Linked DNA regions of Homo sapiens: region 1 is linked to region 2. Evidence: fine-mapped QTL for protein levels in blood plasma. Region 2 holds a variant in brackets. A gene starts in the other region. All regions are shown on their forward strands.

Region 1 (8,995 bases), not on the chromosome of region 2:
TTCTCCTGCCTCAGCCTTCCGAGTAGCTGGGATTACATACGTGCGCCACCACACCTGATAATTTTTTGTATTTTTAGTAGATATAGGGTTTCATCATGTGGTCAGGCTGGTCTTGAACTCCTGACCTCAAGTGATCTGCCCACCTCGGCCTCCCAAAATGCTGGGATTACAGGCCTGAGCTACCGCGCCTGGCCTGCTATGACTTTTTTTTTAAAAGATGCCAACTTATATTAGAGGGTCTTAGATAACTTCCCAAGCCTACCAATCACATATTTAGGGTTCTTAAGTAAATTCCTCCTTTGTGTTTTCTCTTTCCTCTTCTGTGTCATACTCACTGAATCACTATTAATTTTCATTATGAAAACTTTTAAATACATACATTGGAGTTATATGACTTAGCAATAATTACAATGCTTCTAACAAGTCATTATTACATTTGCTTATATATTCTTAGAGTATATTAGAAAATTCTTTTACATCTCTTTAAACACTGGATTTTCACAACTACCTGGTGAGGTAATCAGAGCTAGTATTAATTATCCCAATTAGACAGGTGAAAGAGTTCTGTCCCAGAGGGAATAAATAACTTGATTGGGTTCACCAGCCTATGAGTACCAGTCTGGGGACTCAAACCTAGGTGTCAGTAGTCAGTGCTATTGTCATTGAAGGTCATTTTTATTATTACCAACATTAATCTTAGTTTTGTCTCATTAGAAGAGCTAAGTGTTTTAGGTAATGTGACAGCTGTACTAGATGTGCATAAGTGTTGTAGGTCACATAGCTCGTTATCAGGAAATCAGATGATGTCTGCAAATACTCCAATTTGCTCCACAAAGCTTTTGATCTGAAACTGTAGATTTTAGTGGTTATGTAATACAGAGCAGGGGCTCTGAACCAGGCTGTTGCTGGTTCTTAAGAATGATTTAAACAGCACCTCTCAGAGAAATCCAGAGCATGACTTGAACTCTTATATGCCACCTATAAAGCAGATGAATAGATATCGCTCTCAATCTGTATAATAGGGGACAGGGGCAAGGGAAAGCACCAGGTGAAGGTGAGCTGTAACAGGACAACAACCTTCTCAGCCTAGCTTTGCACCTCACTCTAATGTGAGCTCACCTGAGCAACCTGAACATCCATCCTCTATACTCACCAGCAATGTGTGGACACATGTAAGCATGCACCTGGCCAACCTCTAGGTCCATGAGAATTTGCCTCAACTACTTATTGAAGATGTCCTATCTGCCTGCACCTCTCAACTTCTAATCCTATTCCAATGCTCCTTGCACTGTTATGTTTCTTGCTGACAACCCAACAGATTTCTTTAAGGAAACTAGAATTAGAAATAGCTATGGAGCACAAAGCTACCCAACAGAATTGCTTGGATGCAATGGCTTTAAATTCACAAATCTTGCCTCTGAACCAAAGAAAAGCATACTGTATGTGGAGACAGAAAGCTTAGATTGGTGTACCAGTTCTTGTGCTTACAGTATCCAGCAATGTTAAATAAATAGCTTAATTGAGCTTTTGTTCATCTGTATAAAGTGGAAAGTATTCCCATCTACTTCAGTGGATTGATCAGAATTTCCAGGACAATAATAACAATATTAATATGAACAGTTAACACTTACTGAATGCTTTCTCTATCATTATCAGTCGTTGTTTATTAGAATGGCCAAATTAACTGAAAATTAAGCATACACAAATCTGCCAGTACAGAGTATAGACTCATTTATTCTCAAAGATATTAATTAATCCTCCCAATAAATGCCATGAGAAAGATGCCATTGTTATCCCCACCATACAGTTGAGGAAACGGAGGCACAGAGAAGATAAATAACTTACCCAAAAATCCTACATTTAGCAAGCAGTGGAGCCAGGTCTGCCTGACATCAAAGCCTATGCCCCTAAATATGGCACTTTGCTGAGCTACATGTAATCTTTAAAATAACACATAAATATAAAATAAAACATACCATTGCTATATGCCATGAACCTTTTATGATATTCAAGCTCTTTTAAGTTGTATGGCTTGTAAAAGGAGAAAAAAAGGAAATTATCTAAGCCAATAATATGATGCGGGATTTCCTAACCCCTGTTTTCATGTACCTCTATAGTAAATTCTTCTCAGGCCTTATCTGACTAATGTCAGGCAAGATTCCAGACCTGCTGGGGCTAGATTTTCATTGCATTAACATCTCTCTTTCCTCCAAGAAGAATGAGATGGTACAAAATAAATAAATAGCAATCAGAGACATGGGAAATTTCCCTTCTCTAGGAGCTGTCCAAAGTCAACACTGGGTGATTTCATTTCTTCCATCCAGGGCACTCCTGTAATCTCAGGGGAATCATTAAACCTCTTGAGGCCCCAGTTTCCTTGGTTAAAATGTATATGTACATAATCCCTAAAGTGCTGGCCAAGCTCCCACCATGAGATAAGAATTTCAGGCCAACCTGACTCTATAATGGATGGCCACAGGAAAGAACATGCTAGTTGTCTGTGATGCCAAGGACTGCACACACTAACACCACCTGGGCACACACTAACACCACCTGGGCAAAAGCCATTGGGTGAGGAGCTGCATTTTTTTTTCTTTGAGACAGAGTCTCGCTATGTCACCCAGGATGGAGTGCAGTGGCGTGATCTTGGCTCATTGCAACCTCCGCCTCCCAGGTTCAAGCCATTCTCCTGCCTCAGCCTCCCGAGTAGCTGGGATTACAGGCAACTGACCCATGCCCAGCTAATTTTTGTATTTTTAGTAGAGACAGGGTTTCAAGTTAGTCAGGCTGGTCTCAAACCCCTGACCTCAAGTGATCCACCCACCTCAGCCTCTCAAAGTGCTGGGATTACAGGCGTGAGCCACCAGGCTCGACCTAATTTCTGTATTTTTAGTAGAGACCGGGTTTCGCTATGTTGGTCAGGCTGGTCTCGAACTCCTGAACTCATGTGACCCGCCCGCCTTGGCCTCCTAAAGTGCTGGGATTACAGGCATGAGCCACCACGCCTGGCCAGGAGCTGCATTTTTATGCCATTATAACTTTTCTAGTTATTTTTTTCTTTTTCTCCACCAGACAGGAGTCAAAATTAAAGTCATCTCTGTTTTTTAAGAAGTAATTCCAAAAAGACCCCAATCAAACCTAATTCCTTAGGATTCTGTTTTCTGAAATCCTAGGCATGACAGTCCTTAAACCAGAATGATTGCTGCTACTCACCATGGCTGGGCCATGCAGGGTCTTCACTGTCATGTTGCGCTGGTGGCTTACTTTGTGCAGGAAGCTCTTTCTGTGAATGTATCTTCCTGTGTATGCCTGTGTTCTATCAATGAGAGTACCTGTTAGTTTTATAGCAATCATTGCCCCTGTTTCGATTGACCTGCTTACTGTCTTTAAGTTGTGGTTGACCCGGAGTTACTGACGAATGCAGGGGTTTTTTTTTTTATTCCATTTCCCGAAGGGGAACAAAAGGGGGACCCTAAAGAAAGGGATGACAGGAAAAGGACCAAATTTTTCTTTCCTTCTACCCTACTTCCACCCCCATTGCCCACAAATCAGAGCAAAATTTTTAATTTACTACAGAGATGAACCAAGTTAGAAATTGTTGTCAAATCTTTTTTGTTCTTCCACAAATTGCCAACACCCTTGTCACGGACCATATGTTCTACTTTCCAGTCACGCAATATGAATCGTGATTTAAATGGGAGAAAACTCATCCTTAGAGGAGCCTTGGTACTAAACTATCTTTACCTCCATTTTATGAATGGGAAAACAAAACTAAAGAAATGAATGACATAAGTGAAAAATTCAGAAATGATATACCCTGGTAGTTTTGTTATCTCCCTGAACTAATTATTTTTTAACCCCATGGTTAGACTCCTACTGGTGCTTAATAAATAATCACTATTCATTGTGTTGATAAAACAAACTGTTTTCCTCTGCTCTCACACCACAACCAGCAACACAAAAGATTTCCATGACCATGTATGTGGGCATTTATCTCCATCAACCAGCAAGCAATCAATTCTGCATCCAACGCCAGCTAAGCATCTTCTAATCCAATTCAATTCTGACGCTATCTCCAGGTAGGTAGAGTCAGATCCCACAGGCTGAAGGCTCAGTCCCACAAAACTGCTCCCACTTTAAGCACCAATCACAGGTCCAAGCCTCTGGGACTTCTGACTGACTGGCCTCAAGTTCAGGTTCCCACAAACCGCTTGAGTTTGATTAGGCTTGATTAATTTGTTAGAACAGCTCACAAAACTTAGGGAACACTAATTTATATTTACCAGTATATTCTAAAGGATATTTTTAAGGATACAAGTCAACAGCCAGATGAAAAGGTACACAGGGCAAGGTTTGAAAGGGTCACAAGCACAGAAGTGTTCTTTCCCATGGAGCTGGGGTGCACCACCCTCCCAGCACAGGGATGAGTTACTGTTTACCTTTCTTAGAACTTCCACAAGTTCAGCGGTCCAAAGGCTCTTTGTATCCCATCCTCTTGGGCCTTTTATGGAGTCTTCATTGGGCAGACATGATTACAACATGGAAAACTGTAAACAAATGTGATTGGATAAAAAGGGTATAACCTGATATTAACAGGTTGAATGAGGAAATTCAGCCAGGCCTGCCTGTTCAGATTTTTCTTGGCCTCTCTGAGCAGCCTTCCTTCCTCCTGGGTAGAGGGGAGGACCCTTCCTGAATTGAGGGTCTTATGGCCTATGATTAGACAAGGTAAATCAAAGAATTTCTTTATGGCCAGCTCCAAGACAAAAGGTGTGGGGGGTGATGTTAGATGACAGGATATTTTCTGTTTCTATGGTCTTGGGGAGAAAAGGTGGGCAGGAGAAGTTCAGAGAGGGAGATTCTTTTTTCTGAGGCCTATTTCTTAGGCCTAAAGTGCCCCAACATTACAATAAAAGACTGTCTTTTTCACCTTTATTGCTCTGAAGCTGTCTGAAGCTGCTTCAGGAAACAAAGACAAAAAAGCTAAATACCCTAACAAAAGATATGCTTATTATTTTTATCACTTAGGATATAACGAGGGCTGTGGGAGTTATGAACCAGGAGCCATGGACAAATATACATATATGTAAAATCACATTGATGCAACACTTAAATGCCCATTACCTTGGCTATCTCTAAGAATGGTTTTTTTTAACCAAAATTAATTAGCAAGTAGAAGCCTTTAAATGCAAGATTGGCAGCCCTGGCACTGCAGCTGGGGCAGCAGAGCCAGGACGGCCCAGGAACTGACAGACTGAGGGATAGGCAGACTGACCATAGCCGACCAGCCAAAGCCCATCAGCCTGCTCAAGAACCTGCTGGCCAGTGGCTTTGGTGGCATGTGCCTGGTGTTCATGGGGCACCCTCTGGACACTGTCAAGGTCCGACTGCAGACACAGCCACCGAGTTTGCCTAGACAGCCTCCCATGTACTCTGGGACCTTTGACTCTCTCCCAAAGACTCTTAGAAGGGACATCACAGGGCTATATAAGGGAATGGCTGCCCCTATCATCGGTGTCACCCCCATCTTTGCTGTGTGCTTCTTTGGGTTTGGTTTGAGGAAGAAACTATGACAGAAACACCCAGAAGATGTGCTCAGCTATCCCCAGCTGTTTGCAGCTGGGATGTTATCTGGTACATTCACCACAGGCATCGCGACCCCTGGAGAACCCATCAAGTCCTTGTTACACTTTCAGCCTTCTTCAGGGGAAACCAAGTACACTGGAACCTTGGACTGTGCAAAGAAGTTGTACCAGGAGTTTCAGATCCGAGGCATCTACAAAGGGACCGTGCTTACCCTTATGTGAGACGTTCCAGCTAGCGGAACGTATTTCATGACAAATGAATGGCTAAAAAATATCTTCACTCCGGAAGGAAAGAGGGTCTGTGAGCTCAGTGTGCCTTGAATCCTGGTGGCTGGGTGCATTGCAGGGATCTTCAACTGGGCAATGGCAGTCCCGCAAGATGTGCTCAAGTATCCCTTCCAGACGCACCTCCTGGGAAATATCCTAACAGTTTTGGAGATGTGCTGAGGGAGCTGATCTGGGATGAAGGAATCACATCCTTGTCTAAAGGGTCTGATGCAGTGATGACCCGAGCCTTCCCAGCCAATGCAGCCTGTTTCCTTGGCCTTGAAGTTGCCATGAAGTTTCTTAATTGGGCCACCCCCAACTTGTGAGGCAGAAGGCTGCTCAAGACTTCTGGATGCTGGAACTGTTGCTGAGAAGGAAGAGTAGTGGGCAGAACTAAGCAGACTTGGAGAATGAGGGGAGGAGACGGTGGGATCAGAGCTCTGCGCATGGACTTGGTGAGACTGTTGCCTTAATGACATCCTCTACCTTGTATAAGTTGGTGTGTCATTTCGCAACTTGAATTCATTCTTGTCAATGTAAGGGACCTTAAGAGGATTTGGAGATCTAGTAGTTTCTAGACCAGATACTACCTGTGGCAAGAATACTGCCTACCAGTTGACGGTTGGCCCTACCACACCCAAAGTGTTTCTCATTAAAGAGGTAATCTCAGCTTCTCACTGGAGGCACTTTGGATGCTTTCAACCAGCTGACCAGGGGCTGAGATCATCTTCAATCCCTAGCCAGGAACACCCACTTGATTTCCAGGGTACCACCTAATCCTGGGCTGCACATGGGGATTTGGACTTGAGCCCCACATCTGTGTCCAACTGGACTGGGCATATATGCTTAGGAAGAGATAACCTATTAGCTATTGATTTTTGCTTTTTTTTTTTTACACAAGTAATCAAAAGTAAAACTAGAGTAGAGTAGCCTAATTTCCCAAGAATGGGTGAAAAACTTTCCTTTCTACACAGTGAGGACAGTCCCAGCCTGCTGGGATAAGTGAGAAAACCCAGGGTGAAGGAAGGCTCTTTCTGCACAATCTTTTCTCATGAGAGCGCCATATTTTTGTTTCCAATTTTTGAAGGAAAAAAATTAAGCGTTTAAATGCTCTGACATGAAATTTAAATGACCTGCAAAAAGTTAATTTGTCTCAGTTCAGTTCAGGTTGTCAAACATTTGTTAAACACATTCTATGTGTCAGGCATTGTGCCCTAGAGATACACAGACATTCCCCAAAAAACAGTAACTTATCTTTTTTTACATTCATTAAGATTGGGTAAAATTACACATCATCTTTTCATAAGGCAGGACACATTCTAGCAGGGCAAAGTTATTTTCCTCTAGCGTAACATGTTCGAACAACTCTTTGCCATTTTCTTCACATGAAGAAAATGAAGAGAAAGTTGTTCTTAGGTTCATTGGAAGGCCCTGAAAAACCGATCAAAATTCTGTGATCACAGGCCTTCCATCCACCCTGCTCCCCTCCATGCCTGTGCAATCCTCTGCAGCTCTCTCTGGAACAACCAGAAGTGTAACTTCTACAAAAAGATTTCCTCAAATCACCCTTTCAGGCATTGTTCCCTTCCTCAACCTCTTGTGCCAATACTTGTGTATCTTGCCCTCACATACATGTTTTAGGATAGTTCCCTGGGATCTTCATATATTTGGGTAACTTTACCCTGCTTCCCAATAATCTCTACCAGCCTCCTTCTCCAAATATACATCCTCAAATATACAATCTAGATTAAACAGTGTATTCTATGCAAAGACAGACTCAAGTCCCCTGGCCAACCCCTTCTAGCCAGACTGAACCCCCTAAGCCCATCTTACGGAGAATTTTCAAGGCCTCCCCAGGAGTGACCTTCCATGTGCACAGTGAAGGTAGCTCCATGAAATCAAGAGCCATGTTTTCATCTTTGCTTATATCACTCATGCTCCCAAAGCAACATGTGCAATAGACCTTTAAATGTGTACTAAATTGAGTGGATTGAGTCACTCATTTTCTTCAGTGATCTCTTTTCCATTCAGAGCTGTACCTCAATGCATAGAAGAATATACCAGCTCTCTTGAAAGAAAGAATGAATAAATCAGTTGGAACCAAGAGTACCGAATTCAAAACAAGAGGATTTGCTAGATTGCAGGGGAGAACAAAATGGTTCTTTATGTAAGCAGGAGGCAACACTGACCTTTGGTCACAGTTTTCCCCCTTGGGGTAAAAACAACTCTTATCAGGATGCCAGACTGGTAACTGGCTATCACTGAGTTCAAACTAAATCAACAGATCCAGATTCTTATCTCATCTAGCATTCATTGAGCACTTCCTATAATGTAAATCATGTGCTAATACCAGGGACACACTAATGAACATATGATGGGCACACGGCTGACTATGGTGGAACCCTTCACTGACTGGCTCTATACCACTCATGATCTAAGCTGTCACCAGCTTTAAGAGTTTCAATAATGCATTGGAGCCATTATTCAACACACTGACAGCGAGATGACTACAGTCAACTCCAAGAGCCCACAAAAAGAGATACCAAAAGACTCTGTTGTCTTAGCAATGAGTTACACACAGCCTCAAATGTGGTAAAATACTATACTTCTTCAAACATCCAAATCAGCAAGATGTTTTCATGCCCTCATATGTGCTTGGAGCCATGATACATTTTGTTGGGGCTAGTAGCACAGGCAATAGACTGTATTATTACAGTCTCTACCTTAATGAGCTTAAAACAGTCATGGAAAAAAGTGAACACGCACATATAAACCAGTAAGATAATAATATGAGATTGCTGGGAATAATGATAAAATAAATGTACACATTTAGTTTAACAAATACAACTTTTAAAAACTTTTATTCTCATTTTTAAAAGGGGTATCTAGCCAGGTGTGGTGGCTCATGCCTGCAATCCCCACACTTTGGGAGGCCAAGGAGGGCAGATCACTTGAGGCCAGGAGTTTGAGACCAGCCTGGGCAACATGGCAAAACCCTCTACAAAAAATACAAAACTTAGCTGGGTGTAGTGGTGCACACCTGTAGTCCCAGCTAATTGGGAGGCTGGGGCCAGAGGATCACTTGAGCCCAGCTACTCAGGAGGTTGAGGCTGCAGTGAGCAGAGATTGTGCCACTGCTCTCC
Region 2 (9,235 bases):
GAAAGAAGGCTACGGATGTCTATGTGGATCTTGGTAGTGTGAAGAAACCAGTATCTTCTTAGGTTTAATGTAATATAGATACAGAAGATGAGATACATAAATACTTTAATTTTGAATTTTTGTGGGTAAATGGTATATGTGTATATTTATGGGGTACCTGACTTTGATATAGCATGAACTGCATAATACTCACATTATGATGAATGGTTCCTACATCCTTTCAAGTATTAATTCTTTGAGTTACCAACATTCCATTTATACACTTTTAGTTATTTTACAATCTATAATTATGTTATTAAGGATTATACTTAGTCTGTTGTGTTATCAAATACTATGTATTATTTGTTATTTCTAACCACTTTTTTCATCCATTGAGCATCCCCAATAATCCCCATCTACCATAGACCTTCCCAGCCTCTGGTGACCATCCTTTCACTCTCTATCTCCACGAGTTCAGTTGTCTTAATTTTTAACTTCCACAAATATATGAGAATATGTGAAGTTTGTCTTTCGGTTCTGGGATTATTTCAATTAATATAATGAACTCCAGTTTCATCCACGTTGTTGCAAATGAAAAAATCTCATTCTCTTTATGGCATAATATTAATCCATATGCTATATGTACCACATTTTATTTATCCATCATCTGTTAATGGGCAGTTAGGATGCTTTCAAATTTTGGCTATTACGAACAGTGCTATAACAAACATGGTAGTGCAAACAACATTTTTTTTTTGTGGGAGGGAGTACATGCCAGCAGCAGGATTGCTGGATTATATGACAACACTACTATTAGGTTTTGAGGAAACTCTAAACTGTTCTCCATAGTGGTTTTATTAACTTAAGTGCCCACCAACAGGTTATGAGTGTTCTCATTTCTCCATATCCTTCCCAGCATTTGTTTCTGTCTGGCTTTTGGATGAAATCATTTTAAAATCAGATGAGATGATATTTCACTGTAGTTTTGTTTTGCATTGTTCTGATGATCAGTGTTACACAGCACATTTTATATGCCTGTTTGCAATTTGAAAGTCTTATTTTAAGAAATAAATATCGCCTGCTTTTTATTCGGATTACTAGATATTTTTCCTATAGAGTTGTCTGAGATCCTGGTATATTCTGATCAATCCTTTGTCAGATGGGTAGTAATGTCTCTTTCTCTCACACTATGAAAGACATGATGTCCTCATTCACAGGTGCATTCCGGGATATACACACAGTATCAATGGAAAAGCAGTCATTAGGCAGTGAGGCCTTTGACAGCCTCTACCTGATGTCTCTTTTTCGGAGTCTGTATCTCTTAACATAACAACTGGATGTTATTCTGTACTCATTGCTGGCATGCTGTCACTGTTTTGTGTCAAAAATTCATCCACATTTTAATGCAATTAAATTTGTTCCTATTTAGAGGGTCAGTTTTTGAGGTTTGTCATGACCCAGAATGTTATTTTTTTTTTTTTAAGAAAATGGGTCTAGCAATATCTTGCAGGCTGGCCTTGAAATCCTGGGCTTGGGTGATCTTCCCACATTAGCATCCTCACTAGTTGAAAATACAGGCACATGGCACAGTGTCTAACTGATTATTCTTAAATTATGCTATTTCTCATTCTCTCTGCTAAACCAAGTGGATATTGCTCTTGTGGAGCTGTCAGCTTTTCATTAATTACTTACAGTAAAAATATATTATGTGTTTTAGGATAACTTCATGGTAAAAATTATTCACAGTCAACTGCAAATATAGTCACACAATTTCCAGAGTGCTGTATCTCTGTCTTTATGCCATGCATCTTTACCTATAAAAATATAACAGCCTCCACCTTAGTGCACATGAAATTATTCATATATCTCAAAGTGATACTCCTGCTTTAAGAGCATAAAACTGTTTGGGAATCGTGGACTTAAATAGTCTCATTATGCCTCTCCCAGGAATATCCCCAGAACCTCTGCCATACAAGTGAGCAGGGGTGAGAATAATTGGAGTCCTTCTTGGTTCTTGGTCAATAACGCATGGCATGGAAACTCTGTCTCGTAAGTGAGGGTGGGAGGAGGCAGGCATCCATTACATCACAGACTGGAATTTAGTCTCCACCATAGAGATGTGACACCATGGCTTCAACTGAGATCTGAGGGAGAGAAAGCCACATCTTCTTTTCAGATCAGCTCGTGATCATGCTTCTGTCATCCTGAGCTGCAAATGAGAGAGTAATGCTTGTCTCTCAAGCATGGTGGACCCTCACTGCCCTTACTGAGACTTGGTAAATGGTTTAGTCTGTTTCAGCTGCTATAACAGAACTCCATTAAATGGGTGGCTCAGAAATATCATAAACATTGTTTTCTGAATTCTCAAGGCTAGGAAGTTGAAGATCTAGATGCTTTTGAGATCGGTGAGGACCAGCAATTTCTGGTGAGGACCGGCTATTATGTTCATAGGGGTGTAACTGACGGACATATCCAAACAAAAAATTTTGCATGGATGTTCATTTATATTTCCCCAAAACTGCATACATGTTGTATTATTCCTGATCAGTTGAGCAATTATAAGGCTTGAATAAGAAACTAAAACCTGCGCATTCAGCACACATATCCCTGAAATTAAAGTAAAAAAAAAATCTGTAACCAAACTTACAAATAAAGGAGGTAAGAAAATGAGGTCAGAACAGTTAACATTGAGTCCTCACGTGAAGGCCATTGGTGGTAAGTTACACAATGGGGCTGCAGTGAGATAGGCTACCAGGTGATCTAATTCTGAACCCCTCAATAACAGCCAACCAGCAATCTCTGGCAGTGGGTATGCTAGAAGTTCCCAGACATGGGAAAACTCTCTTACTCCATAAAACTGCACTGGGGTCGTCTGCAGCCTCTAAGTTCCACAGGAGCAGCTCCTACCCCAGACAAATCTCTGCTCTTTCTCTGGGGTCATGAGAGATGATGCGGAGAAGGTCAGTGATATGGTTTGTTTGTGTCCCCACCCAAATTTCATCTTGAATTGTAACTTCCACAATTCCCACATGTCATGGAAGGAACCTGATGGGAGGTGACTGAATTATGGGCATGGGTCTCTCCTGAGCTATTCGTGTGATAGTGAATGAGTTTCATGAGATCTGATGGATTAAAAAGGGGAGTTTTCCTTCATGTGCACTCTTCTCTAGTCTGCCACCATGTGAGACGTGATTTCCACCTTCCACCATAATTGTGAGGCCTCCCAAGCCATGTGGAACTGTAAGTCCAATAAACCTTTCTTTTATGAATTGTCCAGTCTTGGGACCAGCGTGATAACAGACTAATACAGTAAATTGGTACCAGTAGAGTGAGACATTGCTGAAAAGATAACCAAAAATATGGAAGTGACTTTTTAACTGGGTAACGGGCAGAGATTGGAAGAGTTTGCAGGGCTCAGAAAAAGACCGGAAAATATGGGATAGTTTGTAACTTCCTAGAGACTTGTTGAATTGCTTTGACAAAAATGCTGATAGTTATATGAACAATAAGGTCTAGCTTGAGGTGGTCTCAGATGGAGATGAGGAACTCATTGGGAACTGGAGCAAATTGTGGAATTTTGAACTTGAGAGAGATGATTTAGGGTGTCTGGCAGAAGAAATTTCTAAGCAGCAAAGAATTCAAAAAGCCACTTGAGTGCTATTAAAGGCATTCAGTTTTAAAGGGGAAACAGCATAAAAGTTCAGAAAATTTACAACCTGGCAAGGCAGTAGAAAA[GA/G]AAATCTTATTTTCTGAGGTGAAATTCAAGCCAGCTGCAGAAATTTGCATAAGTAATGAGGAGCCAAATGTTAATCCTCAAGACAATGGGGAAAATGTCTCCTGTGAATGTCAGAAGTCTTCACGGCAGCCCCTCCCATCACAGGCCTGGAGGCCTAAGAGGCAAAAGTGGTTTTGTGGTCCAGGCCCAGGGTGCCCGTGCTGTGTGCAGCCTAAGGAGTTGGTGCCCTGTGTCCAGCCACTCCAGCTATGGCTGAAAGACGCCAATGTAGGGCTCAGGCCATGGCTTCAGATGGTGCAAACCCCAAGCCTTGGCAGCTTCCACATGGTGTAGAGCCAGTGAGTACACAGAAGTCAAGAACTGGTCCTTGAGAACCTCTGCCTGGGTATCAGAAGATGTATGAAAACACCTGGGTGTCCAGGCAGAAGTTTGCTGCAGCAGTGGGACCCTCATGGAGAACCACTGCTAGGCCAGTGAGAAAGGGAAATATGGGGTCAGAGCTCCAACACAGAGTCCCTATTGGGGTATTGCATAGTGCAGCTGTGAGAAGAGGGCCGCCATCCTCCAGATCCCAGTGTGGTAGATCCACTGACAGCTTGCACCATGTGCCTGGAAAAGGCACATTCACTCAACACCAGCCTGTGAAAGCAGCCAGGAGGGAGGCTGTACCCTGCAAAGCCACAGGGGTGGAGCTGCCCAAGACCAAGGGAAACCATCTGTTGCATCAGCATGACCTGGATTTGGGAAATGGAGTCATAGGGGATCATTTTGGAGCTTTAATATTTGACTGCTCTGCTGGATTTTGGACTTGCAGAGGGCCCCTTTGTTTTGGGCAATTTCTGTCATTTGGATGGGTGTGTTTATCCAATGCCAGTACCCCCATTGTTTCTAGGAAGTAACTTGCTTTTGACTTTACAGGTTTATAGGTGGAAGGGACTTGCCTTGTCTCAGATGAGATGTTAGACTGTGGATTTTTGAGTTAATGCTGAAACAAGTTGACTCTGGGGGACTGTAGGAAAGGCATGACTGGTTTTGCAATGTGAGGACATGAGATTTGGGAGGGGCCATGGGGCAAAATAATATGGTTTGGCTGTGTCCCCACTCAAATCACATCTTGAATTTAACTCCCATAATTCCCAGTGTCATGGTAGGGACCCAGTGGTAGGTCATTGAATTATGGCTGCGGGTTTCTCCAGCACTGTTCATGTAATACTGCATGAGTTTCACGAGATCTGATGATTGTAAAAAGGGAGATCCCTGCACAAGCTCTCTTCTCTTGTCTGCCACCATGTCAGATGTGCCTTTCACCTTCCACCATGATTGTGAGGCCTTTCCAGTCATGTGGAAGTGTAAGTCCAATAAAACTCTTTCTATTGTAAACTTCCAAGTCTCTGGTATGTCTTTATCAGCAGCATGAAAACAGACTAATAGTCAGACATGATCTACTCAAGGCCTCTGCACATGGAGAAAAGCCAGTGAAAGTGGAAAATGTATTTTCTTGATTTATTGAAAAATACCTATAGAAAACACAACTGTGTGCCAGGACATCAAGCAGAATTTAAAAATTATGCAATTGGAATAAATGTGAAAATTACAATCATTTGCAGACACACATCTGTTCATATATCTTTCAATGAAATAAAGTAAATGCCAGTGTTCTGTGTAAAAATCAACAAAGAGTGTGTTGACCCTGAGAATACACCTCTCTCCCTCCCTTTAAAGGCAGGAAAATGCACATGGATCAGGTGTCAAGCTGCTGCTTTCTGACGTCTATGCTATGGCCCAGATCCTGTGGTCCACTCTAATGAAAAGAAGGACTCTTTAGTGATTCTGAGGCAGAGTCATTGCTGGAGTCACAGGGGTTCCCCCTTGGGTAATGTTGACTTGTAGTAGACTCAAATATGTTTTACACCTTCCTTGCACAGCACAGAAACCTAAGAATGTTTCACCCAATCCTCCGTCCATCTCTCCTTTACTCAGGGACAGATTTCTACCATATGCCATCAGCTTCTGCAGCCACATGTCACCCCCTGTGCATTTCCTGTCAAAAGAGTGGAAGTACTTCTTATGAAAAATGCATGAAAGCATAATCCAGTCTTGGACTTTCCATCTCAAAAGACCAATAATAACACATATATTTCAGCAAAATTATTTATCCTATGATTATGACTATATTTGGCAATTGTTTTGGCAAAAAACAAAAATCATGGTGTTGGATAATGAAGATGTAAGAAGGGCCAAGACTGTTACAACTTTTTATTGATGACCTGGGGCGTAGTAGGGGTAGGTGCTGACCTCAAGATAAGAGGACTGGAACCTCATTGCAACTGTCTGAGTGTACTCACGCAGGCCTGCCTGGGGTTCCAAGGCTTGCATGGCAAAGCTGTCAGTGCTGTCATCTATAATTCTAGCACCACATTTGAGGGAACAACATACTATAAAGTACATAATGAGAACTAGGGTAAGGAGTGCAATTCGCAGTTTTAAAAGTAAAGATTTGAACGCATTAGTTTATGGCTTTGTAGCCTACAAATAATTTAGAATTTCGTCCAAACTGCTGAAGAAAAAAAAACAAGAACAGCAAACAACAGGTGTACTATATTTTTAAAGCATAATTTTTTTCTCTCTTGTCCCCATTTTTATTTAAAACAAATCAAGATAGGACTGATTTATTTGCAAAATAAACTTTAGTCTTATTCATGGCCTTATTATTTGCATAAAGCACAATACAAATAATTATTGTTTACACAGGCTTTTAAAATTGGCTTTGGTGGAACTCTGTTCCATAAGGAATCTCAGATAAGACTTTTTTAAAGCCAAGCCCAGCCATGAGTTTTTACCATCAAATACCTGTAAGTCTGGTAAATTATTTTTCCTCTGGGGTCCCAGGAAAACATGGGGTTCTTGGGCCTGTTAGAAAGTGACATTCTTTACTTACCACTGGTCAGGAACCTTGTACAAAGACTGTGTGGACAAGGTACAGGCCAGTTTTCCCAAGGGGCTCTTATTGGCTGTATAAGTCAAGTTCGATTGCTTAAGGTGAAGCACGCCATTACAGTCAAAGCCTTGGTAAAATAACCAGTTTCTCCAATTGTGTCCTGTTGCAAAAAAAAAAAAATCTTACTGCACTTATGAAAAATCATATTGCCATAAGTTAAGGATATTCACAAAGAGTTTCCAAATTCTGGAGAAAGTGGACAGAGAGAAACAAATATTCTCCAAATTTTATGTACAGGACTATACTCAATTGTTGAAAGCTATAAATAGCTCAAAAGAAAAGTTTTCTTGGGCAACATTTTAAGTGAAAAGTCAAAAAAGATAGTCTTCTATTTGATAGTTTTATCTCTATACTATTGTAACCATCTTCAGAGTTTTTAATCAGAAATCTGCATGTAAGAGCACCTGTTAGAGTTTCATAGATGGTTATAAAACCATCACTTAAAGAGAAACAAAACAAGTCGATAAGGTCAAAACTCAAAGGGAGGAATTGAAGCCACCACTGCAAAGCTGCAACTGAAACAGTGAAAGAGCTGTGACCTAACCTGCTCCATCTTGCCTCAAACCTCCAGGTTGTCCTTGTGCATTCCTGGGTGTAGGCTTACCTAACATTGGGAGGAACTTAGTTTAGTTTATAGTTTAAAACAGAGACAATAACTGCCCTTTCCCAAAACAAATCTCCTTCGTCCTGGGGACTAGACTGCCTTTGGGGGACTAACGAATTAGCCAAAATATTAGAAATTATGTTTTAAGAGTCATGCAGCTGGTGGCTACAAATTCTAACCCTTCCTAGTTTGCTCCTGGGGATAAAATGACTATTATAAAGCCTAAGATCAATGCTTTAGATATTTTACAGACTCTGCACTTGATGGATCAGCTGGCATCACCCAGATCAATAAACTGGCTCATCCGATCTTGTGGCCCCCTCCTAGGAACTGACTCAGCACAAGACACCTTCAGCTCCCTATGATTTTATCTCTGACCTGATCAATCAGTACTCATGACTCACTGGCTGCCCCCAACCCACCAAGCTATCCTTAAAAAATCCCATTCTTGAATGCTTGGCGAGACTCATTTCAGTAACAATAAAACTCTGGTTTCCAATAAATAAATAAATAAATAAATAAATAAATGTCATGGCAACAATCAATTTTATGTGTCCCCTTGACTCATAGAGTCATTTATTCAGTTACACACTAACCTAGGTGTTGTACTGATCCTATAATATAAGTGTTAGTAAAGCCTGCCATCATTTTTTTCCTAAGTCAGGAAGATTGTCCTAGATAACCTAGGTGGGGCTGATTCCATCAGAGCATAAGAGATGACGATGGGACTCCATGGAGGATGACAGTGTAGGTCTTCCCAGAAATTCCAACTCCATTGACCTGAAACCCTGTAGGATTTGCCTAGCCAGACCCTCCAATTGCTGTCACCCAGAGCTCACAGCACAATAGAGTGTCCATCCTTAGCTTTCCCCAAAGTCACAGATGAAGGAGGAAATTCTGTGACAGTGTGAGAAACAGAAGATCAGCTCTACATCAGTATCTCATTTGAGAAAGCTACCATTATCCCCTCAGTGACTAATGTCCACTTCATTTCCCAAATGCCTCCATGCACAGAAGACAGCAGGCGGGTCCAGGCAATGGTGAGTGGGAAAGTCCCCTCAGCCTCCCCAGGTCTCACAGGAGCCACAGCCTGGGCCACACCTGAGTTCCAGGTAACAGGCCTGAGCCCTGAGATTTAGACCACAGAAAACACACTCTCTGTTTTCTGGGAAGGGAAGAAAAGGGAACTATGAGAATGAAGTGTAGAGAGAAGAAAAATTGATTAGCAAGTAAGGGCCAGCTGGATCAGTTCTGAGTCAGATGTGCACAGTTTTGCCAGAGGAGGGAGAACAGCTGTAAAAACTGTCAGGATTTAAGGACCCTCCCATGGGTGAGACTCCCTCTTGGCCCAAGTCTGAATCCCAAACCTATTCTAATCAGAGATTTCCACGGAGGTCTCTGCCCTGAGCCTGACTGGAAAACACTCCCCAGGTTCCACTGGGCTTCCTCAGGACACTGATCAATGTGACCAAGGCAGGGTCATTTCTGCCCCCAAGGTGACACTCGGGCTTCTGTAGGGGTGAGGATGGGTCTTCCTGTTACAAAAAACAAAACAAAACAAACAAACAAAAAACAAATATGTGAGGGAAGTTTAGCAGTCACAGACATCAAATGTTAGTACAGAATTGCAAATCTAGAGAAGTTCCCTCGGGTAATTTGGTAACAACGCAGCCCCAGATCAAGACAGGAAACCCAGCCCTTGTAGCACCTGCACTTGCCCCTGGGGTCAGCACAGTGCACAGTGTCCCAGGCTTTCCCTGGTTGTCCCAGGTACCCTGAAGGGAGGTTTGTGTCTGGGCTCACACTGACTTCTCCTTACCGTATCTCTCACAGAGTCATATGCAGCTGCATCCTCTGCCCTCAGTCTGTTCATTTGCAGATACAGTGAGTTTTTCGTATTGTCTCTGGAAATGGTGAA

Alleles and levels. Alleles are on the strand shown, and positions count from the first base shown. The strength of an association depends on the size of the effect and on how common the allele is.
As copies of GA replace G in region 2, the plasma level of the protein whose gene starts at base 3,317 in region 1 goes down (strong association).

The links. PIP is the posterior inclusion probability: the model's chance that the variant is causal. Protein levels are from antibody-based Olink assays in UK Biobank. Linkage for the fine-mapping came from a reference panel and not from the study's own genotypes, which makes the PIPs less certain.
Region 1: IL17F starts here. The variant in region 2 is fine-mapped to the plasma level of the IL17F protein (UK Biobank, PIP above 0.99).

Annotation. Positions count from the first base shown.
Region 1 is chr6:52,241,184-52,250,178 of GRCh38, forward strand. IL17F (interleukin 17F) reads right to left here and starts at 3,317. Exons shown (of 3, transcript NM_052872.4): 1 at 3,214-3,317. The coding sequence starts at 3,246. It also overlaps the pseudogene SLC25A20P1.
Region 2 is chr14:106,046,404-106,055,638 of GRCh38, forward strand. It overlaps IGH and the pseudogene IGHV3-6. Among named protein-coding and RNA genes, the nearest start is that of FAM30A, 130 kb to the left of the region's middle. The variant GA/G (reference allele first, on the strand shown) is at 3,715.